Regions from separate parts of the Homo sapiens genome. Here region 2 is linked to region 1. The links come from fine-mapping of genetic effects on gene expression. A gene starts in region 1. The other region holds a variant in brackets. All regions are shown on one strand. Distances are from middle to middle.

What was found.
Region 2: its variant is fine-mapped to the expression of FAM20A in whole blood (TOPMed, PIP above 0.99). The same link has a PIP of 0.9 or more in blood mononuclear cells and fibroblasts.

What each region holds. Positions count from the first base shown.
Region 1 is chr17:68,594,732-68,610,079 of GRCh38, reverse strand. FAM20A (FAM20A golgi associated secretory pathway pseudokinase) reads left to right here and starts at 8,713. Exons shown (of 11, transcript NM_017565.4): 1 at 8,713-9,817. The coding sequence starts at 9,414.
Region 2 is chr17:68,573,491-68,588,838 of GRCh38, reverse strand. All of the region lies in intron 1 of FAM20A (FAM20A golgi associated secretory pathway pseudokinase), which reads left to right. Among named protein-coding and RNA genes, the nearest start is that of FAM20A, 20 kb to the left of the region's middle. The variant G/A (reference allele first, on the strand shown) is at 8,490.

The DNA.
Region 1 (15,348 bases):
AAGATGTATCTTTGCTGAGAAAATACAGTTGTACTTCCTTCATTTTAACTGCTCATTACATAATAATACCACAATTTATTAACATATTTCCCTATAGATGGATGTTTACTTTTTTGTGCAATTATTTGCTATTATGAGCCAGGCTACAGGCAAAATTCTTTTGGATGGAGGTATGCAACCTTTGTTTTTTATTTTATTTTATTTTGTTTTAACATAATTGAACAATAGGGCCAATAAAGTTGCCCTTTTTTTAATGTACAGTTCTGTCAGTTTTAACACATGGATGGATTCACATGACCACCATCATGATAAGGATATAGAATAGTTCCATCACCCAAAACAACTTCCTAATGCTGTACCTTTGTAGTCATACCTTCATCACGGTCCCTAATGCCTGGCAGCCAATGATCTATTCTCTGTCACCATAGCTTTTCCATTTCTAGGCTATCATATAAATGTAATCATACAATATGTAACCTTTTGAGACTGGATTCTATCACTCAGCATAATGCCTTTGAGATGCATCAATGCTGTCATGTATACCCATATTTTGTTCTTTGTTGTTTCTAAGTAGTATTCCATTGTATGATGTACAACAGTTTATCTATTTGCCCACTGAAGGACATATGCACTACTTAATGTTGGCAATTATTAATAAAGCTGCTATAAAACTTTCATAAGTAGGTTTTTATGCACACATAAGTTTTCAATTCATTTGAGTAAATACCTAGCAGTGGATTACTGGGTCATGTGGTAAGTACATGTTTATGTTTTCAGATGTTTGGAGATTTACCAGATATCTCTCTGTCATTTATTTCCAGTCTATTTCTATTATGAGCAGAGAGCACAGTTTGTAAGATTTGATTATATTAAATTTAAATGCTTGTTTTATAATGGAGGATATAGTCCATCTTGGTAAATGTCATGTACACTTAAAAATAATGTGTATTAGGCTGCTTTTGAGTGAAGTGTCCTATGAATGTTAAATTAGATTTAGTTGGCCAATAGTATTTTTCAGTTCTTCTATATCCTTGCTGATATTCTGTCTACTTGCTCTGTGAGTGGCAGAAAAAGAAACACTAAAGTCTTTAGCTATAACTGTTGAATTTTCCCATTTATCCTTTCAGTTTTATCAGTTTTACTTCATGTACTTTGAAGCTGTATTGTTAGAGGCATACACATTTAGAATTATTATGACTTCTTGGTATATTGTCTTTTTGATTGCTACTTTGAGTAATACTAATATAATTATGCCAGATTCTTTTTAATTAGTGTTTGCCTGATATGTCATTTTCTATCCTTTTAAGTTACCAGTGGTCATATATACACCGGGTTTCTTGTAGGCAGCATAACATTGAGTTGTTTTTTAATTCATTCTGAAAATCTCTGTCTTTTAATTGGTGTGTCTAGGCCATTTATATTTAATATAATTATCAGTATGTTTGCATTTAGGGCTACCATTTTATAATTTGTTTTCTGTTTATTTCCTATATTTTTGTTCTTCTTTCCCCTTTTCTGCTTTCTTTTGTATGATTTGGGTAATTTTAGTGTTTCATTTTAATATATTTATTATTTTTATTATGTCTCTCAGTATAGTTTTTAATTTTATTATATCTCTTAGTACAGTATAGTATTATAATCTAGGAATTATAACATATATACTTAATGTTTCTCAGCTATTTGGAATTAATATTTTACCACTTCAAGTGGAATGCAGAGTTCTTACCAACAAACAAGTCCCTTTACCCTCTTCCCTTCGTATTGTAGTGGTCATACGTATTACGTCTCTGTATACTGAATCTCTATCAGATAATGCTATAATTTTTGTCTTCAATTATTAGGTATATTTTGTAAAACTTAAGATGAGAAAAAATAATCTGTTATATCTACCAATATTTTCACCATTTCTGTTGCCCTTCCTTCATTCCTGATGTTCCAGGTTTCCCTCTGGTGGCAGTTGCCTTCCATCTGAAATCTTTCTTTAGCATTTTTGTTAGAGCAGGTCTGCTGGTGATTGTTTCTTTTAGTTTTCTTTCATCTAAGAATGTCTTTACCTCATTTTCACTCCTGAAGGAACTCAATGCTGGAAGAGAACTTTGAAATTGTCTACCACAAAATAGTTATTTACACGTGAGGCAAAGGAAGCCCAGAGACATTAATTAATTTGTCCCATGCCACCAAACTAGTTAATGACTGAGCCAAGATTACAGTGTAAGCTCCCTAACTCCCAATCCAGTGCTCTTACTCTTCCTACAAAATGCCTTGGTTTGCTTTCTCAAGTATTTGGTTTATACTGGAAATAAAGTTGTGTGAAAAGGTCTAGATTAATATATGCTTAGTAGAAAAAAAAGTAAAATTCTCATTCTTTAGAGCTGAAAAGGACATTAAAGATCATTCACTTCAGCGTTTCATGTTTCAAATGAGGCAACTGAGATCCAGGGAAGGTAGTTCAGTTTCCCAGGGGAAATTTACCAATAAGTACAGCCATGACTTTTTATAGCAAGATCACACTACATACCCATCATTTGTAAAGAACAGGCACTTATTTGTTTATTTGTGTTCCCCAGTAGCAATGATGGGGAAACACGTACTCTCTGTCTCTCTCTCTTTAGCGCCTTAGAACCTTATGACACAAGTTGGATGGCCAATGTTAGACAATGGATCCTACCTAGCCTATTTGGAATCAAATCTGTGACTTTGCTCTCATTAGCACTGTCCTTTCAACCAGTGATTCCCAAACTTCAATGTGTGTCAGAATCTTATAAGCTGGTAAGAATCAGCTTATTGAAAATGTACATTCCTGGCCCCACCTCCAAAAAATACTAGAACTATGGTGTGGCCCTGGAATTTGCATTTTTATAAGCACATCAGGTACTTCTGATCCACAGGCTGCACTTTGAGAAATCTCTGGCTTATGCTGAGGCATTATGTGTTGGTCACGATTAGAAAATTTTGGACTTTCTACCTCAGAATAAGGTGTTGAGTGCAATACTAAATCAGTTTCAGTTTCTTAAGTTCACTCCATTCTAGGTCTTCCATTTATAGTAATTTCAATTGCATCTCTTGCTGATTACTGAGACAGCTAGCAGGTAAAGGTAACATTCCTCACATGCATCTATACTATAATAAAAACTGTGAGGGACATAGATGTCTACATTTAGTTATTTCTTTATGTGTCTCTTACTTATTGGTTTTTCAATAGGATCAAGGCAATTTCCATTGATGTTCTAAGTAAACATCTACTGGGGCCAGGCACAGTGGCTCATGTCTGTAATCCCAACACTTTGGGAGGCTGAAACAGGCAGATAGCTTGAGCTCAGGAGTTGGAAACCAGCCTGAGCAACATGGTGAAATCCCATCTCTACCAAAAAAAAAAAAATTAGCCAGGCCTGATGGCATGAGCCTGTAGTCCCAGCTACTCAGGAGGCTGACAGGTGGGAGGATCACTTGAGGTCAGGAGTTCAAGGCTGCCATGAGCCAGATCACACTCTGCCACCCTGCACACCAGCCTGGATGACAGAGAAAAACCCTGTCTAAAGAAAAAAAAAACCATAACGGATGTTTAACTTAACACTTATGTAGATGTTCTAACTTAACACTTATCTTGAGCTAGATTATATACATTTATGTTCTTATTTTAAGTGCTCTTTTCCAAACCACTTCCCACCTCCATGTATGAACACACATAAACCCACAAACATCATTTATTCTGCAGGAATTTGTTAATTCTCATTTGCATGCCTTGCTGTGTCTAAGATCCTATGAAGACAGGAAAATAAAAAAGAAAACATGTTACCCTTGAACTCATGGAGTTATAGTCTAGTATAGAAAACTGCCTACACAAACAAAAAACAACTAGTCAAGTTCTAAGCAACACGGGAACATGGGCAAGATAAAAATAGAGTCTAACCTTCACAGATAGAGGAACTTGGTGTTTAAATGTTGACTCTATTGTTTTCATGATTTAACTCCTGCAAGTAGAGAGCTTGATATTTAGCTAGACTGAAAGGAAACACAACTGCCCTTTGCATTTGCTCCTCTTAATGCATGCAATGGCACAGATTGCTAATCTGCTCTGTGTACTACCTCATACTTTTTTCCCATTGGCTTGTGAGTACAGGTATAGCTGGACTCTCTGATGATCACAAGACTCTTGAAGGCAGGAAGGAATTGTGTCATATATTTCTTTATGTCTCCTACAGGGTCCAAAGCTATGTCATCTTATTGTAAACAATAATTTAGCCCCTACTGTATACTAGGCCATATGCGAGATTCTACAGTTGTAGAGATGGCCAATATCTCTGCCTTCACTCAGCAAACATTTCTTGAGCATTTCTCAAATGATAGGCCCCATCCTCAGAGCTCTGTGTACATATATAAGTAGCATTCTCCCTCTACACTCAGGAGTAGTGCTCCAGTGAAGATGGCAGACATGTGTACTGTGTAAATTTGCAATGGCTGCTGTAACAAAGTGCCACAAGCTGGGTGGCTTAAGCAACAGAAATTTATTGTCTCACAGTTCTAGAATTATAAATCCAAGGTCAAGGTGTCAGTAGAGTTGGACTCTTCTGAGGGCTGTGAGGGACAAATTTGTTCCATGCCTCTTACCTAGCTTCTTGTGTTTGCTGGCAGTCTTTGGTATTCCTTGGCTTATAGAAGAATTGCCCAATCTGTCTTTTATCTTCATAGGGCATTCTCCCTGTATGCATGTCTCTGTGTCCCAATTTCTCCTTTTTATAAGGACACAAGTCATATTGCATTAAGGGTCCACTCTACACTAGTACGCTATCAGCTTAACTAATTATTTCTACAACAACCCTATTTCCAAATAAGGTAACGTCCTGAAGTATTGGAGGTTAGGATTTCAACAAGTGAATTTGAGAGCAGGATATAGTCAACCCATAACACATACTAAAAAGGAAACCCAACATGGCCAACGTTGTAATAGGGGAACATATGAGGAGCTGTGGGGGCACATGAGAGCACAAGGCACTGAGTTTAATGGGTATGAAGACAAGCATCAGAGAAAAATTGGACAAGTGGCCAAAGCTTGGGTGGACTAATGGGTGTTTTCCAGGTGGGGAAAGGAGAAAGAGCTTTCGGTTAAAGACACATCTGTGAGAGGTTGTGTGGGGAAAAGCAAGAGAGATCAGATTGTTACTGTGTCTGTGTAGAAAGAAGTAGACATAGGAGACTCCATTTTGTTATGTACTAAGAAAAATTCTTCTGCCTTGAGATTCTGTGACCTTACCCCCAACCCCGTGCTCTCTGAAACATGTGCTGTGTCAACTCAGAGTTGAATGGATTAAGGGCGGTGCAAGATGTGGTTTGTTAAACAGATGCTTGAAGGCAGCATGCTCCTTAAGAGTCATCACCACTTCCTAATCTCAAGTACCCAGGGACACAAAAACTGCGGAAGGCCGCAGGGACCTCTGCCTAGGAAAGCCAGGTATTGTCCAAGGTTTCTCCCCATGTGAGAGTCTGAAATATGGCCTCGTGGGAAGGGAAAGACCTGACCGTCCCCCAGCCCGACACCCGTAAAGGGTCTGTGCTGAGGAGGATTAGTAAAAGAGGAAGGAATGTCTCTTGCAGTTGAGACAAGAGGAAGGCATCTGTCTCCTGCCTGTCCCTGGGCAATGGAATGTCTCGGTATAAAACCCGATTGTATGCTCCATCTACTGAGATAGGGAAAAACCGCCTTAGGGCTGGAGGTGGGACCTGCAGGCAGCAATACTGCTTTGTAAAGCATTGAGATGTTTATGTGTATGCATATCTAAAAGCACAGCACTTAATCCTTTACATTGTCTATGATGCAAAGACCTTTGTTAACGTGTTTGTCTGCTGACCCTCTCCCCACAATTGTCTTGTGACCCTGACACATCCCCCTCTTCGAGAAACACCCACAAATGATCAATAAATACTAAGGGAACTCAGAGGCTGGGGGGATCCTCCATATGCTGAATGCTGGTTCCCCGGGTCCCCTTATTTCTTTCTCTATACTTTGTCTCTGTGTCTTTTTCTTTCCTAAGTCTCTCGTTCCACCTTATGAGAAACACCCACAGGTGTGGAGGGGCAACCCACCCCTACAAGGTTGGAGCACTTGGGAATTGCAGAAAGTCTTGTGGGGTGAAGACGAAAGAGGGGGCATATAAAGAAGAAAGGAGGTAGAAGCCAGACCACGAAGAGCTGTGTCACAATGAGTGACCTAATCCAGCAACAAGGAGAAGCTCAGGGGGTTTTCAGGAGGAGAATATCCTGGTTGCCTCTGCATACTAGAAGTCTCACTCTGGCAAGAGTGTGTGTGGGCACTGAACTAAGGTACCATGGAAGCAGAGGGACCAGTTAGAAGCCTATTTGCAAGTATGAGCAAGAGATTATGAGGCTCTAGATACATCAAGATCAGTAGAGATGGAAAAGGAGGGAGGGGCTTCCAATGAAAGATTTTAAACAGAATGATGGGTCCCAGCAAACAGCAATTTAGGATACCTTCAGTGTGAACGGAGAGGATGTATGTGAGGCTGGCAAGTAAGCCAGGGCCCAAGACATGGAAGATCGGAGGAGCAGGAGAAGGCTCATTTCTAGGAGGGGTAAAGGTAGATTAGAGGCAAACCTGAGGAAGCCAACATCCTATTGGCCAATCCTACTGGTAGGATTTCCACTCTCCTATCCAGCTTCATTCACACTTAATATCTAACTCCCACATGCAGTTCTGCACTTGACTGTGACCTTTAAAGGGCATGGAAAATATGTTTACATAATTTCCAAGCAAGTTACACTATTGTTCCCTAAATTGGGGCCAGAAAAAAAAGAGTCTACTAAGCGAGTATGACCCCATGGGTTGAGGAGAATTGAAGTCACAAGACCTGCAGTGTCACCACATCCACGTCCTTTGCCAGCCGAGAAAAATGCGCATCAGTTTGCCACACAGTTACTGCAGTTACATCACCACCATTCAATGCCTGACTTCTTCATTCGCTTGCCATGACATCTAATTAAACACATTAGAAGTTGCAACGTCTCTCAGAAATTGGAAATCAGTTAAAATTTAATTCCAGATAAAAAGGAGGAGGTTCTAGAACCCCTCAAAATGCCCACCATCATACCCAGAGGAGTGGAGTAGCTGGGAATAGTACCGTCTTGGGCTTTTTCACTTGGACTGGGCACTCAGGCCACAATGTTATGCCCCTGAAAGCAGGTTCCTTCCTGCTATCTTCCTTTTCCATCCTTTTCTATTTTTGTCCTAGCGATGAGCAGTCTCTAACCAAGCCTAGTGTACTACAGGAACTAATAAGTAATCATAATGATAGCAAACACATATTTCACACTTATTTAGGATGAGTTAGGAGCTCTTCTAAGTAATTTATACATAGTCAAGTGCCACATAACATTTTAGTCAATGCAACAGTGGTCCCATAAGATTACAATACTGTATTTTTACTGTATGTTTCCTATGTTTAGACACACAAGTACTCACCACTGTGTTACAACTCCCTACAGCATTCAGTAGTCGCATGCTGTACAGGTTTGTACCTAGGATCAACAGGCTATGCCATGTAGCCTCCGTGTGTAGTAGGCTGAACCATCTAGGTTTGTGTAAGTACACCCTGATGTTCACACACACAGGAAAATTGCCTAAGGATGCATTTCTCAGACGTGACACATAATTGTACTTCAATTCATTTAAGTCTCATAATAACCTTAGGAGGTAGGTTCCATCATTATCTTCATTTACATTTGAGGAGACTGCAAAGTCCCGAAGAAATCTTACACTGAACCACGGGGAAAAGAACTCTGGTCTGAACCCACAAGTCAAAGTATGTCTGAGGGTTCTCAATTCCAGCAAGGGAAGGGAGGGGGTTAAAGAGTAGAACTAACTTACATGGGAAGCTTTGCTGCCTGGGCAAGCAGCTTCTGGTGGATTTCCTGAAATTCAGCAGGGTGGGGCCGCCTCTCCAATCAGACTTCACTTTACTATACTATGGGGTCATTAAATAGAGGAGCCAGGAGTTCAGGACTCCCTCCCTCTTCTTCAAAAGGAAAACTGGGTGTGGGGAGGGTACATTACCTCACAGAATATTGGAGAAAGCCTAAATGTGTCCTCCAGTGATTCATTTGGGTGGACTACTTTCACACCAAGCTAAACTCAAAAGTTCGGAGTGGGGTCATCAGGGCCCCTCCCTCCCTGAGTGCAAGAAACATTTCCTCTTTTTAAAGTACAGGCAGAGTTGGAATCAAACTCCTTCCAAACAGGAAATCAGCAAGATTCTAGGTAAAACTGATACCTTACTTTTAAAGGTCAAGCTCTTTCCTTCACCAAGAGCGTGTTTCCTGAGCACCTACTATGTGCCAGGCATGTGGTAGGTAGTTGTTATGAATCTTGATGTGCCCTGCGCTCTGCAGGGGGGCGGAGGTGGAAGGGAACACAAAGAAAGAACAGATACCAACACTGCCACCCCCGCCTCCCCCCACCCCCCCCCACACACTCATTTGGCAAAGCTTACAGGAAAAAAAGGGTTTTAGGGGGCTTGTGGTGGTTTTTTTTTCCCTAAAAATAATAGAAATGGTAAAAAGAGGCTTCGGACCCCTCGCGTGAGTCCCTTAAAGTGACTGGATTGAGACCTGGGCAGGGAAAGTGGGAGGCCCGAGCGAGGGGGAGGGCGCAGGCAGTGGGTGGGTGACAAGGTGCAAGGGCAGCGCCGGCTTCGGATCGGGAGTTGGCCGTCAGCTGCGCCAGAGGCAGGTGCCAGCGGAGAGTGGGTGGGGGTGCCGGCGCCAGGCCAGGCTCGGGGAGGCCCCGCGCTACCTCTGCCTCTAGGAGTCCAGGCGCACAGACAAGCTCCCCGGAGCCGCTCCTGCTTCGCCAACTCCCCACTCGCGCCGCCCGTGCCAGCCGCCGGCACTGGCGTCTCCGCCGCCCGCAGGAGGAGTCGCGGGAGCACTAGCAGCCGCCGCCGAGCGACAGCATCCTCAGGAGAGACGCCCCGGGCTTTGCAGCCGGCGGCCTCCGTCCGCCCTCCGCGGTCGCCCCCCGCCCCGTCGCCCGTCCGCCCGCGGTGGCAGCCGGCGCCGGCGCCCCGGGGCCCTTCACCTGCCGCGAGCGTCCGGGCGGGCGGGCGCACGGGAGAAAAGGCGCAAGAAGCGGGCACCCCGGGAACCCCATTCCCTCGGCTCACTCGGCGCGGAGAAGCGACGCCCGCTGACTCCGAGAGCCCCGGTGCTCCGTGCACCTGGTCCCCAAGTTGAGGAGCGACACCCCTCCACAGGGGACTAGCCCGCGCGGGGAGCATTCCGGTCTCACTGACCCCGGCCCACCCGCGGGACTCCAGGCACCTCTTCTGCCCGCACCCCGCGACCCCTCCCGGGACCCCGGAGACAGCCGGCCTGCCCCCGGCGTCCCCCTTGGCCAGCACGCCATGCCGGGGCTGCGCCGGGACCGCCTACTGACTCTGCTGCTGCTGGGCGCGCTGCTCTCCGCCGACCTCTACTTCCACCTCTGGCCCCAAGTACAGCGCCAGCTGCGGCCTCGGGAGCGCCCGCGGGGGTGCCCGTGCACCGGCCGCGCCTCCTCCCTGGCGCGGGACTCGGCCGCAGCTGCCTCGGACCCCGGCACGATCGTGCACAACTTTTCCCGAACCGAGCCCCGGACTGAACCGGCTGGCGGCAGCCACAGCGGGTCGAGCTCCAAGTTGCAGGCCCTCTTCGCCCACCCGCTGTACAACGTCCCGGAGGAGCCGCCTCTCCTGGGAGCCGAGGACTCGCTCCTGGCCAGCCAGGAGGCGCTGCGGTATTACCGGAGGAAGGTGGCCCGCTGGAACAGGTGAGGACCCCGCCCGGGACGCGGGAGAGCGGGCGCTCTGGCCGGGGCCTCCCCGCGCCCCAGTCTCGAGTTTCCTGACGCCCCCGGCCCAGGGCTGCAGCGGCTCCACCCACGGCTCCAGCCCTGGCGCTGGGCTTAGAGTGTGTTCCCCACCCGAACCCCACCAGCTGTTGCAGACCTCACAGTCCAGTCCCGGAGTCAGATAGTACGAGGAAAAAGTTTCTATTGCAGCCGCACAGCGAAGAAACGCTCTCAGCCCCTTCCCCTTGAGCGCCTGGGTCGTCGTTGAGCCCCACTCCTGCTCCCTCGTCCACTCCCGCTCCCTCGTCCGCTCCCAAACCCCACTCTCTGTCCTGATGTGGAGGAAAGCTGCCGCTGGACTTCGGGTTTCCAGAATGAGGCCCCAAACAGGGTGACTCCAGAGCTAGTTGAAATTCAGCACTTAACTGTGCTCTTTGGGTAAACCTGGGCGCCTTCCAGAAAGCATGTTTCTCCCCAAAACCCAGTTCTTTCCCTTTCCTTATTCCTCTGCCCAGTTTCAGAGATCACAAGGGGGTCATCTGAGGCAGGAAGTAAATGGTCAGTTCTCTGCCGCAGCCACCCCATTGTTCACATTTAAAACGCGGCTTGGGCCCATCCAGCAAGTATTAGAACTTGAAGGCACTTTTATCGTCTTGTATGATCCTGGTGATTTGGACTGACTTGGATCTGCGGCTTGATGCTTCCACAGACGAGAAAAAAATCTTTCAGGGAATTTTTTAAACCCAAAGCAAAATACAGAGGAAAAAATATCAAATATATTTAGGATAAAATTAAGAATCTTTCTGGAAAAGGATGGGGGTGTTAGGGAAGGCAGCACGCTCATTACTGAGATCCCTTGCTAGTGGCAGGAAGCCTTCGTATGAGTTAAGGACTCTGTTTTGAAGTACAGAACTTGTCTAAATACCACTCACATGCAGAGTTCACTATCGCACCACACCCATCTCTTTACTTAATACAAGAGATTTCAAAGTAAGATGTCATCGGTGGTTTTATGGTCCCTCCAGAGGATGAGCAGACCATAAATCTCTCTTGAAACTCAGAGCTGGGCCAATTTAACTGTTTGCTCATTATTTTGTAATGCTGAGATTGAAGGGAGAAAAAAAAACCTTCAGAAATTTTTGCAAAGGAATAAGTTGAGTTGTTGGCTGAATCACTGTGGTGAATTTCAGTAGTAACTCTACGGCTCACATTTTATGTTAGAAAGAAAGTGATTCTCAATTCCACGTTAACTGTGTGCAGTAATAAAAGGCAGTTTGAGATTGCTTCTCAGACACTGTCATTTTCAATATTATCTTTATTTCGTCAATAACATGGAAGTCTGGCTTAGTGAACCAGGAAATTTTGCCCTTAGAAAAAGTATCTATATGTCTACTATGGATCTGAGAATGAGAGACTTTGGACAAAGTCACTTGCTTTTGTAAATGTGATCAGCATTCATTTAGTCACATTTCTGTGGTCTTAAACTTCCCGGTGTTACTTTGGACCCGAAGCAAAGTCCAGGGGAATATTATGGCAGAAAAGCAAAAATCTTTCTCACCAAACTGTTCTACAATCAGTTTTAAGCTTGATTTCTACACCATTATGTGTCAACAAAGACAAAAAAAACTCGCAAAAACACACATACTTTCTGACCAGAAATGATCTTGGTCATTTAACAGAAGATCAAGTGGGGGCTGGTGACCTTACTATATTCAGAGATCACAGAGTAGTTTTGTGTGGTTGCTCAAATGTGACATTTTCCCAAGTAAGGTTTGTGGGCCACAACAGGAGGACCCGCTGCACTTATAAATGTTAAAACTGGACCTCAGAGGCAGAGAACACTCTCCTTCCACCCAAACTGGATAGTAAATGTTAACATGAACATATTAATAAGCAGATGTGTTGTTACTTATATCAGGGTTAAAAATGAAACACAAGGCCGGGCAGGGTGGCTCACACCTGTAATCGCAACATTTTGGGAGGCAGAGGCAGAGGGAGGATCACTTGAGCCCAGGAGTTCAAGATGAGCTTGGGCAACATAGTAAGATGTCGTCTCAAAAAACAAACAAAAAAAATAGCCAGTGGTGACACATACCTGTAGTCCTAGTCACTTGAGGGACTGAGACAGAAGGATTGCTTGAGCCCAGAAGGTTGAGGCTGCAGTGAGCCATGACTGTGCCACTGCACTCCAGCTTAGGTGACAGTGAAACCTTGCCTCAGAAAAAAAAAAAAAAAAAACCATACAGAAGATTCATTAGCCAGGGTGAATTTGAGCCACACTCAGAGTTCTATTGTGAAAGGGAGTCACTCATTACCTTAAATGAGAGTGCTCCCTGCCAAATATGAGGATGTAGCAGTGCTGATGAAGACAGGGGGCCTGCCATTATGTGCAGGGTCGAGGACACCCCTAGATCCTAGCAGCAGACAAATAAATAGAATGGACAGCAGAGGAAGAAACAATGAAGGACCTTGCTAATTGTTTTTCTCTTCACAGACAAGCTCTCCTTGTTTGTAGCCCTGCCAATATTTAAAATCTAGTGATTTATAAACATATGAGGGCCAGGCACAGTGGCTCACACTGGTAATCCCAGCACTTTGGGAGGCTGAGGCAGGCAGATCACCTGAGGTCAGGCGTTCAAGACCAAACTGGTCAACATGGTGAAATCCCATCTCTATTAAAAATACAAAAATTAGTTGGGCATGGTGGTGGGCACCTGTAATCCCAGCTACTCAGGAGGCTGCGGCAGAAGAATCACTTGAACCCAGGAGGTGGAAGTTGCAGTCAGCAGAGATCGTGCCACTCTACTCCAGCCTGGGCAACACAGTGAGATTCCATCTCAAAAAAAAAAAATGTGGATGCCTCCATGCCAATACCTAACATGAAGTCCTATCCAAAATAATTGTATCAGCAAACTGTCCACCACACCAGGAGAAGTACAGAGAATAAAATAAGCCAAATCAGTGTTCTTCGCCACTTGCCCACAAGAGACCATTAGTCTGAGTGATTTTTTTTTTTTTTTGTAATTTTGACCATCATACTAATAAGAAATGGTATGAAGTCAGAAAGTATCCTTCCACAATTCAAGCTCATTACCAATAAGAGGTAGGTTATGGTGTGTCTCCCCACCTCCCCACTCACCCACACGTTCCTTTTTGATTTCACACAATGGAAGATGACATTTGTGCAGTTTTGAATGTCTTGGGTTTTTAATTAATATTTGTTCACTGGATGTCAACATTTAGACATGTAGTTAAGTTACAAATGGGAAGATGTGTTGATTTTTAAGGTGGGCTGTCTGTGTGCTATCTGGCCCTGAAGCTTTCTGCAAACCTCCTTCACTCACTGTTCTTCCCTCCCTTCCTTTCTTTTCCCCCCAAAAATGTAACTAAGTGTGGCACAATCCAAGTTAAAAATGTAATTAGGGAAAGTGTTTCTGTCAGGTGGTCAGCTGCTGATCACAGCCAGCCAGCCAACGCCAGGCTCCATCAAGCATGATGACACATTTGGCACCTGTATTGAACAGTGACGAGGAAAGTGCACAGGGAAGAAGGGAAATGAAGTCTTCACTTTCAGGCCATACACTAACAAGCCAGAATTGTGCTGCTCTTAGTCCTTTGCTTGAATAAGTGATGACGCAGGGCAGGCAGGCTTTACCTGGAGCACAGGTGATGGTTCACACTGTTGCTCGCCTTTGCATTCTTAGATACTGAGCTTTGGATTTCTTCTCTGGCCCACAAGCTGCCCAAGTCAGACAACATCTGTCTTTTGACGTGTCAAACTGATCAGCTTGGCCAGTTTTGCCCACATATGATTGGCCTTTTGGCCACATATCTTTGGTCAGTCTCTCTGTAACCCTCTGGTCTCGACAGGCAAGGTCAAACAGGGTCAGCTCTCCCTAATGTAGAAACCCCAGCAGCTATAACACAAATATGAGTTTTTGCTTTTCTTTCTTGACATCTTCCTCAGATGTCAGGAAGGTTATATTGTCTTGCAATTACAGATTCAGCATTTCTTAGGGGTGTGTGTGTGTGTGTGTGTGGTTTCCCACATCAGAAACTCCTGTCTTCTTCACCCCTCCTCCTACCTATTGCTGTCACTGAAAGAAAACCTAGTCCTGGGTCTCTCTTTGAAAATCACCGCAAAGAGACTGGGCAGCTTTTCAAAAATGACAGTTGGTCAAAGGGAGTAAGTTGGCTGAAGTTTTTCTGGGGGATGCTTTGAGAAGATCCAGAAGCCAAGGCAGATAGAGGAGAAGGGTGGAGAAGAAGTCAGGAGAGATGAAAAGGAATTCAGCTAGAAATAAGAATTGCCTCGTCTAGGAGCTTGGGGAAGATAAGCTCCTCCCTGCCCCAGCTCCCCCATGGCATCTGTGGAAGGAAAAATACAATCTCTCCATTCTCACTCCCATCTTTTTATCTCTGTCCTGCTTATTTTGTGCCTGCCCTAGAACGCTCTGAACCTAGATTTCTTGTGAGCAGGCAATTCAACCCGCAGGCTGGATGAAAGTCCAGGTTCTTACTCATGGATGGTGGCCATTTGCTTCTCTCCCAGAGTCAACAGGGCCTTGGCCCCTTGTTAGATTCTCCCGCCAACAATGCTAAGCTAAGACAGGAAGTGGCCTCCTGTGATTTGGAAATGGACCTCAACCACGGCCCGTGTGTGGTTAGCAGAGAGAGTGGGGAGCCTGACTTCCATTTCCCATTTCTCCCAATTAGAGCCTTGCTGGACTAGTTTTGGAAAAGATATTATTTTAGTGGTTTCCAAATCCCTGAACTTGTAGTTGGAGGAAACCTCTCCACTCCTCTCAGAATCAAAAGCTTCAAGCAGATGGTTTCTGAGAGGGCTGGTCCAGACGGCCATTATCAGGTTTTTTCTCCCTCATTCCAAAGCCTGTCCTCACTGCTGTTGCCACAGCAAAAACCTAAATCAGGGAGAGCATCAGTGTCATTCATCCAAGAAAGACAGGCACTTCCTGCTTCCAAATAGATCAAAATGAAGCCCTTCAGCTGAGAACCAGAGGCTGTTCCATTGTTCCTAACAACACTCTTCTTTCACCACAACCAAGTTCTCATCAATCCTGAGAACCCAAGTGGCTAATTTTTTGCATGCAAATGCTCCTACCTAAAACATGCTTGTTATGTGCCAGGCACATTACATACACTTATTTTAAGCCTCATAACCTCTGTAGAAATAGGTGCATGTGGTAGATGGAATTCCAAGACAGCCTTCCAAGATTTCCAGCCCTGGCATACACACCTCTCCTAGTTGTTCAGCCCACTGCTAATATGGGTACTGCTATAAAGGGATTTTACAGATGTAATTAAGGCCCCGTACCAGTTACCCTTGGGATATGGAGATTATCTGGTTAGCGTGACCTAATCCATGAATGATTTAAAGCAGAGAGTTTTCTTGGGCTGATCACAGGAGAGGAAGTGAGATTCAAAGCAGAATAAGGATTTGATGAGCCATTGCTGATTGAAGATGGAGGGGCCATGTGGCAAGGGATAGG
Region 2 (15,348 bases), 21 kb after region 1:
AGGCTGGTATAGACTGAATTGTGTCTCTTCAAATTCACATGCTGAAGTTCTAAACTCCAGTACACCTCAGAATGTGACTGTGTTTGGTGACAGGGCCTTTTAAGAGATAATTAAGGTTAAATGAGGTCCTGTGGGTAGGTCTTGATCCAATATGATTGGTGTCCTCATAAGAAGAGAGATACAAGGAACTCATGCACATAGAAGACCATGTGAAGACACAGAGAGAAGGCAGCCATCTGCTAGCCAAAGAGAGAGGCATCAGAATGAAATCAACCCTGCTGACACCACGAACTTGGACTTCCAGCCTCCAGAACTGTGGGAAAATACATTTCTGTTGTTTAAGCCACCTAGTCTGTGGTATTTTGTTATGGCATCCCTAGAAAACTAAAACAGAGGCTAACTCACCTGGAATGGCCAAGGACAATCTGCTGGCTTAGGCCTGTCTCCATCTCAGTTCCCTGGGGCAGGGGCAAAGCCATATCTGAAATTTTCTTTTTCCTCCCATATGGTTCTTACAGCCTCAAGAGGCCTCTTGGCCTTTCCTTCCTTAAAGAAGTGACCCCAGCCTCTCTGCCTCCCAGATGAGACAGTCTGGAGCCTGGATCCTCTCCTTAAAGCAAAATATCTAGTTCATCATTTATTATCTTTTTAATCTATTTGTTTATGGATGGGCTTTGAGCTCCCCTTCTTCTGGGCCCCCTTTTTTTTTTTACGTCAAAAGCTGAAAACTGGCTCTTTGTCTCTCTTGGCATTCCTCCTGTAATTGTTCTACTCCTACCAAGGCTGCAGATGCTGTGGTTGGATGAATCAAGCATACAGTATCATCTCACAAAGGTTTTAAAGCTTGCTTTGTAAACTCATAAGCACTTCCTTTCATATTAACCAACATAATACGTAGAAACAAAAGTGAAGGTTTGTTTTTCTTCATCAGTTCTGTTGACAGCCTATATTTTATGTGTATTTCCAAGACCATTATCTGTTCATTTATCTACAGGGCACTTGTGATAATAGTTGTTAAGATTATTAACACCATGAACATGTAGAGTCCTTTCCACTTCTTGAAGCTCTTTTAAATTGTATGTCATTAGATCACCACAGCAAAATATTGGTCTTTATAATTCGTAAGACTCTGGCCTGAAAATCTCCATGGAAAGGCATCCAGCCAATTGATGTTTTATTATGAAGCAGCTTGCCCATTGCCCCAGACTAACTGGGCTTTAGTTGTCCACAGTGGATTCCATGTAGGGCCTCTGGTGAAAACATTCGGCAGGAAACATAGGTGCTGCCCTTGCAGTGACACCTCCTAGAGGCTGAACCTCTTGGAGAGCTCTCCACTCTCCACTGAAATGGATAAAAATGCCCTCAGTGCAACTTAATGATATCAAAGCAACACAGGTAAAAATTTTGTGCTCCATAGGTATTATAATGATAATCATTATGTTACTTTAATGTAATGGTGAGAAACTGAGACTGGATCTTCTGGTATAATTTGCTGTCAGAAAATTAGATATATCATCAAGGATGGATTTTCTGCTACACACTTTGCTGCACTAGCCTAGACCCTGTGGCAGAGAACTCTCTGTGAGCTGTACAGCCAAGGGTGAATGCCCGAAGTGTCACACTCCCAAAACATTGGAGGTCAGTCAGGCGCGGTGGCTCATGCCTATAATCCCGGCACTTTGGGAGGCCAAAGCAGGTGTATCACCTGAAGTGTCAAGAGTTTCAGACCATCCTGGCCAACATGGAGAAACCCCATCGCTACTAAAAATACAAAATAAAAAATAGCTGGGCATGGTAGTGGGCACCTGTAGTCCCAGCTACTCGGGAGGCTGAGGCAGGAGAATTGCTTGAATCTGAGAGGCGGAGGTTGCAGTGAACGACATCACACCACTGCATTCCAGCCTGGATGACAGAATGAGACTCTGTCTCAAAAGGAAAAAAAAAAAGAAAGTTGGAAGTCAAGTCTTGAACCATCAGATCTCTTAGCATTGCCTGAGCAAGGTCTGAAAGGGAATTTGGTAACTATATTTGTTCCCTAGGGCTGCTGTAACAAATTGTCACTGTTTAAGCCACTGTGGGTGGCCTAAAACAACAAAAATGTATTATTTACAGTTCTAAAGGATAGAAATCTGAAATGAAGGTGCCAGAAGGGCAGCACGCCATCCAGAGGCTTGAGAGGAGAATCTGTTCTTGTGGCTGCCAGCTTTCACTGGCTTCTGGCTGCATCACTCCAATCTCTGCCTCCATGATCACATTGCCTCCTCCTCTTCTGTCTTTGTCTGTCTGTGTCTTCTCCTCCTCTATGTGGGTCTTTCTCCTATAAGGACACTTGTCATTGGCTATCAGGTCCACCTAAATGATTCAAGATGATCTCATCTCAAGATCCTTAATTTAGTTAAATCTGCGAAAGCCTTCTTCCAAATAAAGTCACATTCACAGGTTCCAGGGATTATCTTTTGGGGGACCATTCAGTCCACTTGAATCATGTTCCATGACAAATACAAAGGCCATGCAGTTACCATTTATCTTCACTCTTGTAAAAAAAATTTAATCTTTTAGATAAAAGATTATCTAGTAGATTATCTATACCTATATCTTTATCCAAGAGTTAATCTTTTAGGTAAATCACAAAATAATTCTGATATATCACAATATAAAATGGTTGAGAAAAATGTGCCAAAGGAAAAAGAAGGATACACAAGACCAGTGGAGCCAAGAGTGAGGAACTTCTCAGAACACTTGCCATGAGAACCTTCCCACCACAGAGTCAGCCCTGCTTGGTGGGGAGGAGCCACCAACCATGTCTATAAGGTAAAAAGCAGCCAGTGACCCAGGAAGGGCACTGGTAGTGACTAGGTAATTCACTGGTAATTCCTGGTAGTGACTAGGCAGATGAATACCTTCCTTGTCCTTCTCGCCTCACCTCCTCCAAGAGAGGACACTGTATGGTGTCAGGACTAGCATTTTCCATCACATCCATAGGGGAATTACCCAGCAATGGCTCTCAGTGAGTCTCTCTGCTAGCACTGTGCCCCACAGCAAATTCCAAAGTCATGTCCCAGGCACCACCCCACCCATTCGCGATCGTGGTGATCAAGCCTGCTTTCTTGTCTCATCTCAGGAGAGAATTTAAATTGCTGAGGCTCCAGAGGAAAGGGCAGCAGGCACATTCTTTGGGCAGCCCTCCATGAACCTGGATTTTTTCAGCAGGGCTTTTCACTGACATTGAGTGGCAGTGCATTTAGGATAAAACTTTCAGAAACACTTTGAGTGCAGTTTTTCAGGGTTGTCATTCAGTACAGAAAAATAACACGTTTTGCCCATGTACCCTAGAACTTAAAGTATAATTTAAAAAAAGAAAAATTTACATAAAACCTAAAAAAAAAATAAATAAAGCCATGGTATTGGTGGAAAAACAAAAAAGAATGTGTTTGCACGGATGAAGAGAGTGCAATAATACACAATGAAGACTCGGAAGTGTGGGAGGCAGAGGGGTTGAATAGAGGGATATTAATAAACATAGTGTTTGTTATTTGAAAAAAAAAAGAAATAGATTTACCAATTAACTGAACTTAGAGGTAGGAACAAAAGGCTCTTTCTGAAGTCATGGAGTCAAACAGGATAGGCAAGTGAACTCAAAGCCACTGACCTCTGTCTACAGGGAAGCCACAGGTCTAAGGGCCAGCCTAGATTCCCTTCAGACAATACCTTTGAATCTGCTGTGACAGGCGAGCCAGCGGGTAATCAATACCTCAAAGCCACATGCCATGGAATGTGGCTGCAAAATGTTTGGCTGGAAAAATACTCCAAGAGACTGTAACCAAACACCTACCTTAGGTATTAAAAAACATCAATAAAGCAACCATTGAATGCCTAACTTTATCAGCGTAACTCACCAGTGGCCTCTCTGGGTTTAACTCACTGCAAAATGTACACCCCAAGTAACTGAATGAGACGACATTCTGTTCTGTTATTAGCTATAAAATCATTAAAAGGCAGGGGAAGTCAGCCAAATATGATGAGCTAGGATTTATAGCAGTTGGTCCGCAGCAGCTCTTTTTGGCAGTTGTGAAGACAGTGGTCTGTTAAGGCTGCTTGCAGTTTATGATATTAAAGCCATTTTATTTGCATATAAGAAAATGCTTCTTCCTCCCTCTCCTGGCAGGAGATGCTATGCCCAACTCATCCAGAAGTATTATTTACTCATTAAGGCATAAATTAAGCTGATGAACCAGAATGGTCAGGCTCTACTGAAGATGTGAAGATGATCAGCAGGCTGCTTCTTGTCCTTTGCGTCTACTTTCAAAACTGCCCACTCAGAGAGAACTTTCCTGTCCTGCTGACCCACAGGGGTCCCAGATGTTGTCCTTACCAAGCCCTGTTTTATTTTCAGCTGGGCTCTTAACACCACTTAATGCCTTTTTGTGTATTGATTTGCTTAGTGTATAGCCTCATTAGATCTTAAGCTTTTTGTGTTTGGGTTTTTTTTTTGTTTTGTTTTGTTTTGTTTTGTTTTGTTTTTGAGATGGAGTCTCACTCTGCCACCCAGGCTGGAATACAGTGGCACCATCTCAGCTCACTGCAACCTCCACCTCCTGGATTCAAGTGATTCTCCTGCCTCAGCCTCCCAAGTAGCTGGGATTACAGGCGTGTGCCACCACACCTGGCTAATTTTTGTATTTTTAGTAGAGGCAGGGTTTCACCGTGTTGGTCACGCTAGTCTCAAACTCCTGGCCTCAAGTGATCCACCTGCCTCGTCCTCCCAAAGTGCTGAGAATACAGGCGTGAGCCACCACACCCAGCCAGATCTTAAACTCTTCAAGGGTTGAATTGGTTTGAGTGGTGGCTCTATTTTGCATTCCCTAGGATGGCCCTTGAGGTAGGCCGAATAATGGCTCCCCAAATGATATTCATGTTCTAATCCCCAGAACCTGTGACTATCATCTTTTTTTTGAGATGGAGTCTCACTCTGTCACCCAGGCTGGTGTGCGGTGGCACGATCTCCACCTCCTGGTTCACGCCATTCTCCTGCCTCAGCCTCCCAAGTAGCTGGGACTACAGGCACGCACCACCACGCCCGGCTAACTTTTTCTGTTTTTAGTAGAGACAGGGTTTCACTGTGTCTCGATCTCCTGACCTCATGATCTGCCCGCCTTGGCCTCCCAAAGTGCTGCAATTACAGGCATGAGCCACCGCAACCAGCCAACTATCATCTTATGTGGTTAAAAAAAACAGGTCTTTACAGATATAATTAAGACTCTTGAGATGAGGAGATCATTCTGACTTATCCAGTGACCCCTAAGTTCCATGTCAAGTGTCCTTATATGAGGAATGCAGAAGGAGATTAGACACAGACGGAAGAGGAGAAGACAACGTGACCACAAAGGCCGAGAGTAGAGTGAGGTGGTCACAGGTTGAGGAACACCAATAGCCACCAGAAGACAGAAACAGCAAAGAAGGGGCTTTCTCCTAGAGTCCCCAGAAGGAGCACAGTCCTATTGCTACCTTGATTTCAAACTCTCAGACTCCAGAACTGAGAGAAGGAATTTTTTGTTATTTACGCCACTAAGTTTGTGGTAGTTTGTTAGGGCCCCAACAGAAAACTAATAGAAAGATGGAGGCTTCTTTGTGTCTTCATCATTGTAACCCAGGTATCTAAAATGCTGTTTGTATATAGTAGGCACTCAACAAATATTTGGTAAATGAATGGTTAAGAGAAACTTGGCAGTCAGGCAACTCTGGGTTTAAATCCTGGCACTAATCTCAGCACTTTCGGAGGCCGAGGTGGGCGGATCACGAGGTCAGGAGTTCAAGACCAGCCTGGCCAACATGGTGAAACCCTGTCTCTACTAAAAATACAAAAAAAAAAAAATCAGCTGGGCCTGGTGGTGTGTGCCTGTAATCCCAGCTACTCGGGAGGCTAAGGTAGGAGAATTGCTTGAACCAGAACCTGGGAGACGGAGGTTGCAGTGAGCCTAGATCATGCCACTACACTCCATCCAGCCTGGGCTACAGAGCGAGACTCTGTCTCAAAAAAAAAAAAAAAAAAAAAAAAAAATTAATCCTGGCTCTTCCACATAAGCGCTATGCAGGGCCAAGGCTCATTTCCTCCAAGCCTCAGTTTCCTGGTCTATAAAGTGGGATGTAATCTGGACCCCAAGAGGTGGCTGGGAAGATGGAGTCAGATCATGTACAGAACACACTGAGCAGGGTGCCTGGTTTCCTACAGCACTGATCCTCAAGCAGATAAAGGACCACTGCTAGTTGATTATGCTTTAATATTCCTTACAGGTTATTTGATACTTATCGATATGCAGCCTTATCCATTTATGTTTGATGTTTGGGTGGATGATGATGATGAAATGGCTTTTGTGGCCTCCTGTTGTCAGGGAAAGGCACCAGTGCTTCCAGCCCAGCCATCGCCCTCACTTGACTTAGCTGCCTCTCATGCTTCTAGCGAGAGAGAAAACACACATATTGATCTCTCCTCCATCACTTCGACGTCAATTACCTAATGCTTGCAAATGGGGAGAAAACACAGAACGCAATCAATCTACTTATTTTGGAAACTCTGCCCCCCTTCCCCTCCTACATGCACATACCCTTCTCAGTGCAAACTGCTGAGCCCATGTTTCTCAATGACTTTCCTTGAAGTGACAGGAATTCTGCTGATTCTAGGAACAACTCTTTTTCTTTTACTAAAGCATTTATTAAACTGGTTAAACAGGCTAATCTCTGCTCCCTGGAGACCTTCCCTTCAAACCGTGCCTCTGGTGAGTCGGTGACACTTTGATGGCAGGTGACACTTGTGCGGCACTTACTCTATGTTAAGCACAGTGCTGACCACTTCACCCACCACACATTTACTCCCTGCAACAACCCCATAAGCAGGTACAGTCCTTATCCTCATTTTCAGATGAAGAAAGTGGCTCAGACAGAGTATGTTACACAAGAAACTGGATTTTGGCTGGGCACAGTGGCTCCCACCTGTAATCCCAGCACTTTGGGAGGCCAAAGCAGGCAGATCACGAGGCCAGGAGATCGAGACCATCCTGGCCAACATGGTGAAACCCTGTCTCTACTAAAAATACAAAAATTAGCCGGGCATGGTGGTGCACACCTGTAGTCCCAGCTACTCAGGAGGCTGAGGCAAGACAATCGCTTAAACCCGGGAGGCGGAGGCTGCAGTGAGCAGAGATCACACCACTGAACTCCAGCCTGGGCAACAGAGTGAGACTCTGTCAAAAAAAAAAAAAAGGAAAAAAGAAAGAGAGAGAGAGGAAAGAAAGAAAGAAAAGAAAAGAAAGAAAGAGAAAGAAAGGAGAGAAAGAGAAAGAAGAAAGAAAGAAAAAGAAAGAAAGAAAGAAAGAAAGAAAGGAAAGAAAGAAAAGAAAAAAAGAAAAGAAAGAAAGAAAAGAGAAAAAGAAAGAAAGAAAGAAAGAAAGAAAGAAAGAAAGAAAGAAAGAAAGAAAGAAAGAAAGAAAGAAAAACTGCATTTCGGAGATACCTTTTCAACTCCAGAGCCGAAACTCAACACTGAGTTTAACTTTATTTCATGTCTGAGCCTGAGTCCTGGAAACCAATTTGAGAAGAGATTTGTGTCCAGGAGGCTTAGTGAGCCATGCTGTCACAGTACACCCCTTTGCATCAGGGCCCAGAGATTATCGAGGCAGAATTACTCCCAGTACCCTGCTCTGGAAGTATAGGTTGCTTTCTCTTTCTGGAGGGCAAGTTGGCAATAAGCATCAGACGTTTTAAAAGTTATCCAACTCATCCCTCCTTATGCACCATAGTTTTTTATTTTTATACAAAAGTTTTTTGGTCTTCCTAATCAGGGGGAAAAATCATTATTGGTGGAGTATCTTACACATATTCAGATGTCATACTCGGGTGTCATCGCAACGCTGCCTTGTACTAGCAGTGCCACCTTGGAGGTGTCATTTTTGCTGCCTATATCTGGTTCCCATATGTTTACAATGGTGGTAATAATAATAATACTGACCTTATGAGGAGTTTCTGTGGGGGTGAAATGAGTTAAAAGAGCAAAGTGCTTAAAACTGCCTGGCCCCATGTGAGTGCCACATAAGAGGTAGTTAGCTATTTTCCTCATTCACACTGTAGGCCCATTTTGGGACACTGGTTCCTCTTGAGTCTGATTTTTGCTCACCAAGGCAGAAGTCCAGGTGGTTTCCACCCTGGGACAATCCATGATATGCCCCTTCTCATTCAAGTCCCTTCCAGTTCGGGGCCACTCCAGCTCAGAAGCCCCATGCCCCTCTCTGGGCGGGTTTTACTTAAGTGCTGAGCCAGGGCTGTGGTTCTATGAGGTCAGGATAAGGTTAAGGACACAGTTAGCTGGAGTGGAAACAAGAGGTGCATTGCAACATAGCATAAAACCAGCTCCCAGAAGAGGAAGCAATTGTATTTTAACGAGAAAGGAATGAGTTTTTGTCGGGAAACCAGCCCATTTCGGGAAACCAGCCCATTTC[G/A]CAAAAATCTCAGTAAAATCTTGGTACAGTCATTGCTTTCTCAACAGCAAACAGTTAATCAGGTTCTGTGTCTCCCCCCACCCACCACCACCATGATCTTTAAGAAGGCTCCAAGGAAATTCAAATTAAATTCTTGACAAAGCATTCGTTTCTCTGCAGCCACTGTGGAAGAGCAGAAAAAGCTCAGGTCACAACCCTGGCTTTTATTCCTCCTTTCCACTTATTATGTTGTTACTTCCACTTTGTGGACCTTAGTTTCTTTAAGAGCTTGAGGAGAGGAGAATAAGACAATAAATGGAAATAACCTAAAATGCCTTTATAATGAGATTTATGCAAATGCAAACTATTAATAGTATTAAATCAAAAGACACATCCTATGTTCAATAAGTACCAAGAGGCTGTGGCAGAGGCATTTTCTGCTCACCAAAGTCCACTTGTTCTCCCGTGTGTTCCAGCCCCCAGCAGTTAGTTGGGGTCATGTGACTAGTCCTGGACAATGGGTTATCAGTTGATGTGATCTGCGTCGCTTCCCAAAGCATTGAAGAGCCAGCACTTCATCTTCCAGTTCCTCTCTTTTCTTGCCCTGATGACTGTGAAGACCATTTGTTGGGATCTTGGTGTGTTCATCAAGCTGGGTCCCTGAGTCAGTGTGTGGAGCAGAATCCCTACTGACCTTCACGAGACAAGTAGCATGAGTGAGAAATAAGCTCTTGTTTTGAAAAGCCACTCCGATTTCAGGATTAAGCTGTTGCTCTAACAGAACCTACCCTACTCTCACTCAATAGGTAAATGAATTCAGATGGATTTTGCTCTACAAACTCAAAAATCAAAGTAACATAGCATTGGTTTATTTTTCAAAAGTCCAATCACTTTGGACTCTAGGCCCTCTTTTCTGTTTGGTTGGCTAGAAATTTAGTCTGAGTCATCACTGGAGCTCCTTACCCCAAGCCCCTCATGTTGGGTCAATGTCCTTAGGGTGTCTGGGAGCACATTTGAGGAGGACCCATAGTCCATGTTCCATCACCTGGTCTCGTGCAGGTGGGTGGCACTGTTGGTTCTGCATCAAGTTCAAGCACAGGATTATTGGCTGAGACTCGGTTTCTGGTGCCTAAAATGAGTCTTTCTCTGCACACACCTAACCGTTCCCCAGCACATTGGATCACCTCCAAGAAACAGGCCAGACACAGACCCCAGTCAACTCTCCTTTCCTAACCTTGGAGTCTCTTCATGCTTCCCCAAAATTCTGTGCTTCTTTATGCACTTTCACATTCTCTGTTAAATCCCCCTGCCTAGCAAATGCCTTCACTGAGCCTAGACATGTTTTTTTTTTTTTTTTGAAACAGAGTCTCGCTCTGTCACCAGGCTGGAGTGCAGTGGCGCGATCTCTGCTCATTGCAACCTCTGCCTCCCGGGTTCAAACAATTCTTCTACCTCAGCCTCCTGAATAGCTGGGACTACAGGCACCTGCCACCACGCCCAGTAATTTTTTTTTTTTTTTTTTTTTTTTTTTTGGTATTTTTAGTAGAGACAGGGTTTCACCATGTTCACCAGGATGGTCTCGATCTCTTGACCTTGTGATCCGCCTGCCTCGGCCTCCCAAAGTGCTGGGATTACAGGCATGAGCCACTGCACCTGGCCGAGCCTAGACATTTTTAAAAATCCAAGGAAGGAGTGAGAGAAGCCTGGCTACCTGTCTAAACTTCCCCTTGGTCCTGGATCCTAAAAACACTCTGAGGCAAGGAACACAAAGGCCCAGCTATCTTCTGAGAACAGGGGTGGGTAAAATTCCGGAAGAACAAAAAACACATTAATATCTCAATAAATTATCCTACCACATGGGTGACTGGTCATGCTGAGGAGGAAAGGAGGCCAACATTTGCTATCATTCTCTTGGTTTGCAAATCAGGTGGAAAAATAATACCACGCAAATTAGCACTAGCTCACAGGCCAAGGACTTGAAAGAATTTAATCTGAGTGAGCCACAAGGAAATTTGCTTATGAACCATGAAAATATGTGCCCCAGCCTAACCCCGTATTGTACCCACCTACATGCAGATTCCCCAACATTCAAATCCATCTCTCTTTCAAATGCCCATGCCTGTATGATAGGCAGTAAGGCAGAATTCAGACACTTTTGAAAATAAATATATTCTGGTAAACCTTTGATTATTAGAGGACCCAGGGGGTGGATTTTTAAAGCTCCTGCTTTGTCTTGGTTCTCTCAGAGTATTGCCTTTACACCACGTTTCTTCTTTTTGCATTCAGGAAAATGGTAGAGGAAAGAGAGGACACCTGTCTATCCAATGTCACTTGCTAATAGTGTGCGTGTGTGTGTGTGTGTGTGGTGTGTGAAATATATATTTATTTATTTTAGGATTACACAGTTGGAAGATTGAAAAGCACCACAATGATGACATTTAAATAAATCAATATTGCATCTTTTGCAACTAACACGTGTGTTAGTGTTTTATCAATATGCTTGTTAGGTTGGTAGAAGTCTGACAACTAAATGCTTGCTGACTCAAATTGGTTTTCTTTTTTTAAACAATTAAGTAACATTTTTAATTTTTGGCTGTGCAGAAGCTATAGAAGGAGTGGAGAGGCTCTGAGGAAGGCTTTTACGCGTCTATGGAAAATATTAAATTACACCGAGTGCAAAATCCATCAGAGCAATTTTCAGGCCATCATCAGAGGATTAAGTGCTTTATTTGCTCATTATTCTATGGCTCTAGCCCAGGATTTCTAACTCAGCATTACTGACATTTGGGGCCAGATCATTTTCTCTTGTGCAGAGCTGTCCTTTGCATTGGAGAATGTTTACAACAGCCCTCAGCACTCTCCCCACCAACTATGACAACCAAATATGTCTCCAAACATTGCCAAATGTCCCCTGAGGGGTAAAATCGCCCCCAGTGGCGAACCACTGGTCTACAGCAGGGAGGCAACAGTTCTGCAGAAAGGGAGATTCTGCAGCTGCAAGGCCCCTGTGCTGCGTGAATCATCACATCACAATTAGGTTGAGGAGCTCCGCAGTCCAGCTTTAATATTTCATGTTTCCCAAAATGTGTCATGTACCATGCAGAATAGAGGGGAATTGGTGTGTGCTACGTAAGGAAATGGTTTAAGAGATGTCCTCTGAGCAGGAGCCGTCATGGCAGGACTTCTGCAAGCCTTGACTGTCTTTCTGCACATGGTCACTCCCCTCAGAGTGGTCACCGTTGGCAGCTCTTTCTAAGTTTATTTGTGTGGAGCTAGATGTTTTGGATCTTAGCTCTATAGCCAAAACAAGAATCTGGGAAACTTGGCCCGGATAGAAGGCATCTGCTAGTTCCCTGACTGGACTCTGGGGACTCTTAGATGAGGGATCATTCTTTCATTCTTCTCCAGGGTGTCTGAAAGTTGTTGTGAGGGTAGATAAGCAGACTTTTTACTATAGACAGAGTCCCAGCTCCTAGAATGTCCCTCCTGGCCTGCCCTAGGCAACTAGCTCAGCCTGGGGCCATTTTGACTCAGAGCTGTTAGGCTATTCAAAATGAACAGGGCTGAGCAAAATCAACAGGGCAAGTCTAGCCACTTTGATAAAACCATTTAAAACAATCATATTTTGATTCCTAATTTTTTCTCAGATTTGCTCATCAGTTAAGCAAGTCGTTTTGTCCCTAGGTCCCCAACTACATGTAACTAACGTTTTCTGTAGTACCCACCACTAAGTGTCTGAAAGGTGTCTACAGCGAGGATCTCCCTGCCCAGACTGAGCACCCTCACAGCATTTATGGACTTACAGGTCTCTCTCCCTGGGGAGGAGGCTGGGACAGTCAGAAGGGAGCCTTGGGCTCAGGGCTGCAGCATGAGGAGCCAGGAGGTGCCAGATGGACCATGATGCAGTCAGCACGTAGGGTCATGATGAAGAGCTTGGCCTAGGAAGCCAGTCGGCCAGGTCCAAATCACTGCACTGTGCCTGCCACTCACCAGGCAGGTGACCTTGAGCTAGCTCAAGTCAGTCTCCTCATCTATAAAATGGGCTAACAATGGACCTGTCTTATGGGGCTGTTGTGAAGAGTCATGAGCCAGCACATGTGAAGTCTTCATAAAAGGTGCTGGCAGAGAGCCATGGCTCCAGAAATGGTGACAATTATTACATGTGAGGTGTGGGGGATTGAAGCAAAGAGTGCTTGAGGCAGGTATGGGGGCAGGGTCTAGAGAGCCAGAGAGGACCATGGCACTACGAATTTGGAGCTGGCTGAGCACTGGGCTTTTGTACTCTTATGGGAGCTTGTTCCATTGGCTGGCCAGACCCATTTAAAGGGCTCAGCATGCAGCCAAGTTTCAGAATTCGGGATGAGATGAAGAAGCAAGAACCTCTCTCCAGCCTAACACCATCCACTTCCCCAGGGTTAGCTCCTGGGCAAGGGAAAGGCCATTCTTAGGGGGCGCCCTTTGGACTTGGTTCTCAGAAACAGCAGTGCCTAAACATCACGCCCTGCCCGGTGGCAGCTGTAACTGCCAATGGCTGATTATGTGTGTGTGTGTGTGTGTGTGTGTGTGTGTGTGTGTGTGTATAATATAAAATATACAATATATAAAATATAAAATATATATAATATATAAAATATATAATATATAAAATATAAAATATATAATATATAATATATATAATATAAAATATAAAAATATAATATATAAATATAAAATATATATAAAATATAATATTCTATATTATATTTTATATATAATATAGAATATATTATATATAATGTATAAAATATAGAATATATTATATAATATATAAAATATATATTATATAATATATAAAATATATATTATATAATATATAAAATATATAATATCTAATATCTATAATATATAATATATAAAATATATTATATATAATATATAAAATATATAATATATAAAATATATAATATATATAAAGTGAAGACATATATATATAAAATATATATATATATGTAAAGTAAAGTGAACCTGTGTTGGCCAGGTTGGTCTTGAACTCTTGGCCTCAGGCAATCCTCCTGCCTTGGACTCTCAAAGTGCTAAGATTACAGGCATGAGCCACTGTGCCTGGCCTGCTTGTATATTTGTAAAAGCCACCAGAACACATTATTACAAACTGACTGGCCTAAAACAACATAAATTTATTGTCTTACATTTCTGGAGGCCAGAAGTCCAAGCTCAAGATGTATGCAAGGCTGTGTCCCCTCCTGAGGCTCTAGGCGAGAATCCATTTCTTATCTCTTTCAGCTTCTGGTGACTCCAGGAATTTCTTTTTTAAAAAAATATTGATACATAATAGTTGTACCTATCGACTAGTGGCCACCTCATGCCAGTCTCTGCCTCTGTGGTCACATTGCCTCATCCTCTTTTCTCTGTCTTCTTGTCTATGTGTCTGTTTTATAAGGGTTCTTGTAATTACATGTAGGGCCCACCCAAATAACCCAGGATCATCTCTCCATCTCAAGATTCTTACTTTAATCATATCTGCCAGCCCATCTGGACACATAGGGTATGTACAAGCCCAGAGATTAAGACGCAGATCTCTTTGGGGGCACCATTATTCAGCCTACCCCAGGGACCATCCTAGGGAATGCCAAATAGAGCTCTTGACTTCACCTTGGTAAGCAGAACTCAGGTAACTGGGAAATTAAGCAGAAGTTGGAAATAATTCTTCACAGTATTCCTTCCCCTTTGTAAAGGATAAAGTTACCAGTACTGAGTCCCAGAAGTCACAGTAACAATAACTCACATGATGTTACGGTTTGAATGCTTGTCTTCTCCAAAATTCATGTTAAAACTTAATCTCCAATGTGGCAATGTTGAGAAGTGGGGTCCTTAAGAGGTGATTGAGTTATGAGGGCTCTACTGTCATGAATGGATTAACTCATTTATGGATCCATGGATTAACAGATTAACGGGTTATCGTGGGAGTGGGTCTCATGGTGCTATAAGAAGAGGAAAGGAAACCGGAGCTAGCACACTCAGCCCCCTCGCCATGTGATGCCCTGCACCACCTCAGAACTCTGCAGAGGATCGCTTAGGCCTAGGAGTTTGAGACCAGCCTGGGCAACATAGGGAGATCCTGTCTCTATAAAAATAAACAAAATTAGCCGGGCATGGTGGCACACGCCTGTGGTCCCAGTTACTTGGGAGGCTGAGGTGGGAGGATCACTTGGGCCTAGAAGGTTGAGGCTGCAATGAGCCATGATAGCTCCACTGCAGTACAGCCTGAGTGACAGAGTGAGACCCTGTCTCAAAAAAAAGAACTCTAGAGAGAGTTCCCACCACCAAGAAGGGTCTCATCAGATATGCCCCTCAACCTTGGACTTCCCAGCCTCTAAAACTGTAAGAAATAAATGTGGTCAGGTGTGGTGGCTCACACCTGTAATCCTAGCACTTTGGGAGGCTGAGGCAGGCGGATCACCTGAGGTCAGAAGTTCAAGACCAGCCTGGCCAACATGGTGAAACTCTGTGTCTACTAAAAATACCAAAAAAATTAGCTGGGCTGGGCATGGTGGCTGGCACCTGTATTCCCAGCTACTTGGGAGGCTGAATCACTTCAACCCAGGAGGCAGAGGTTGCAGTGAGCCAAGATCACACCACTGCACTCCAGCTTGGGCGACAAGAGCTTAACTCTGTTGAAAGAAAAAAAAAGAGAAAAGAAAGAAAGAAAAGAAAGGAAGAAAGGAAGAAAGAAAGGAGGGAAGGAGGGAGGGAAGGAAGGAAGAAAAGAGAGAGAAAGAAAGGAAAGAAAGGAAGGAAAGAAGGAAAAGAGAAAGAGAGGGAAAGAAAGGAAAGAAAGGAAGGAAGGAAGGAAAGAAGGAAAAGAGAAAGAGAGAGAAAGAAA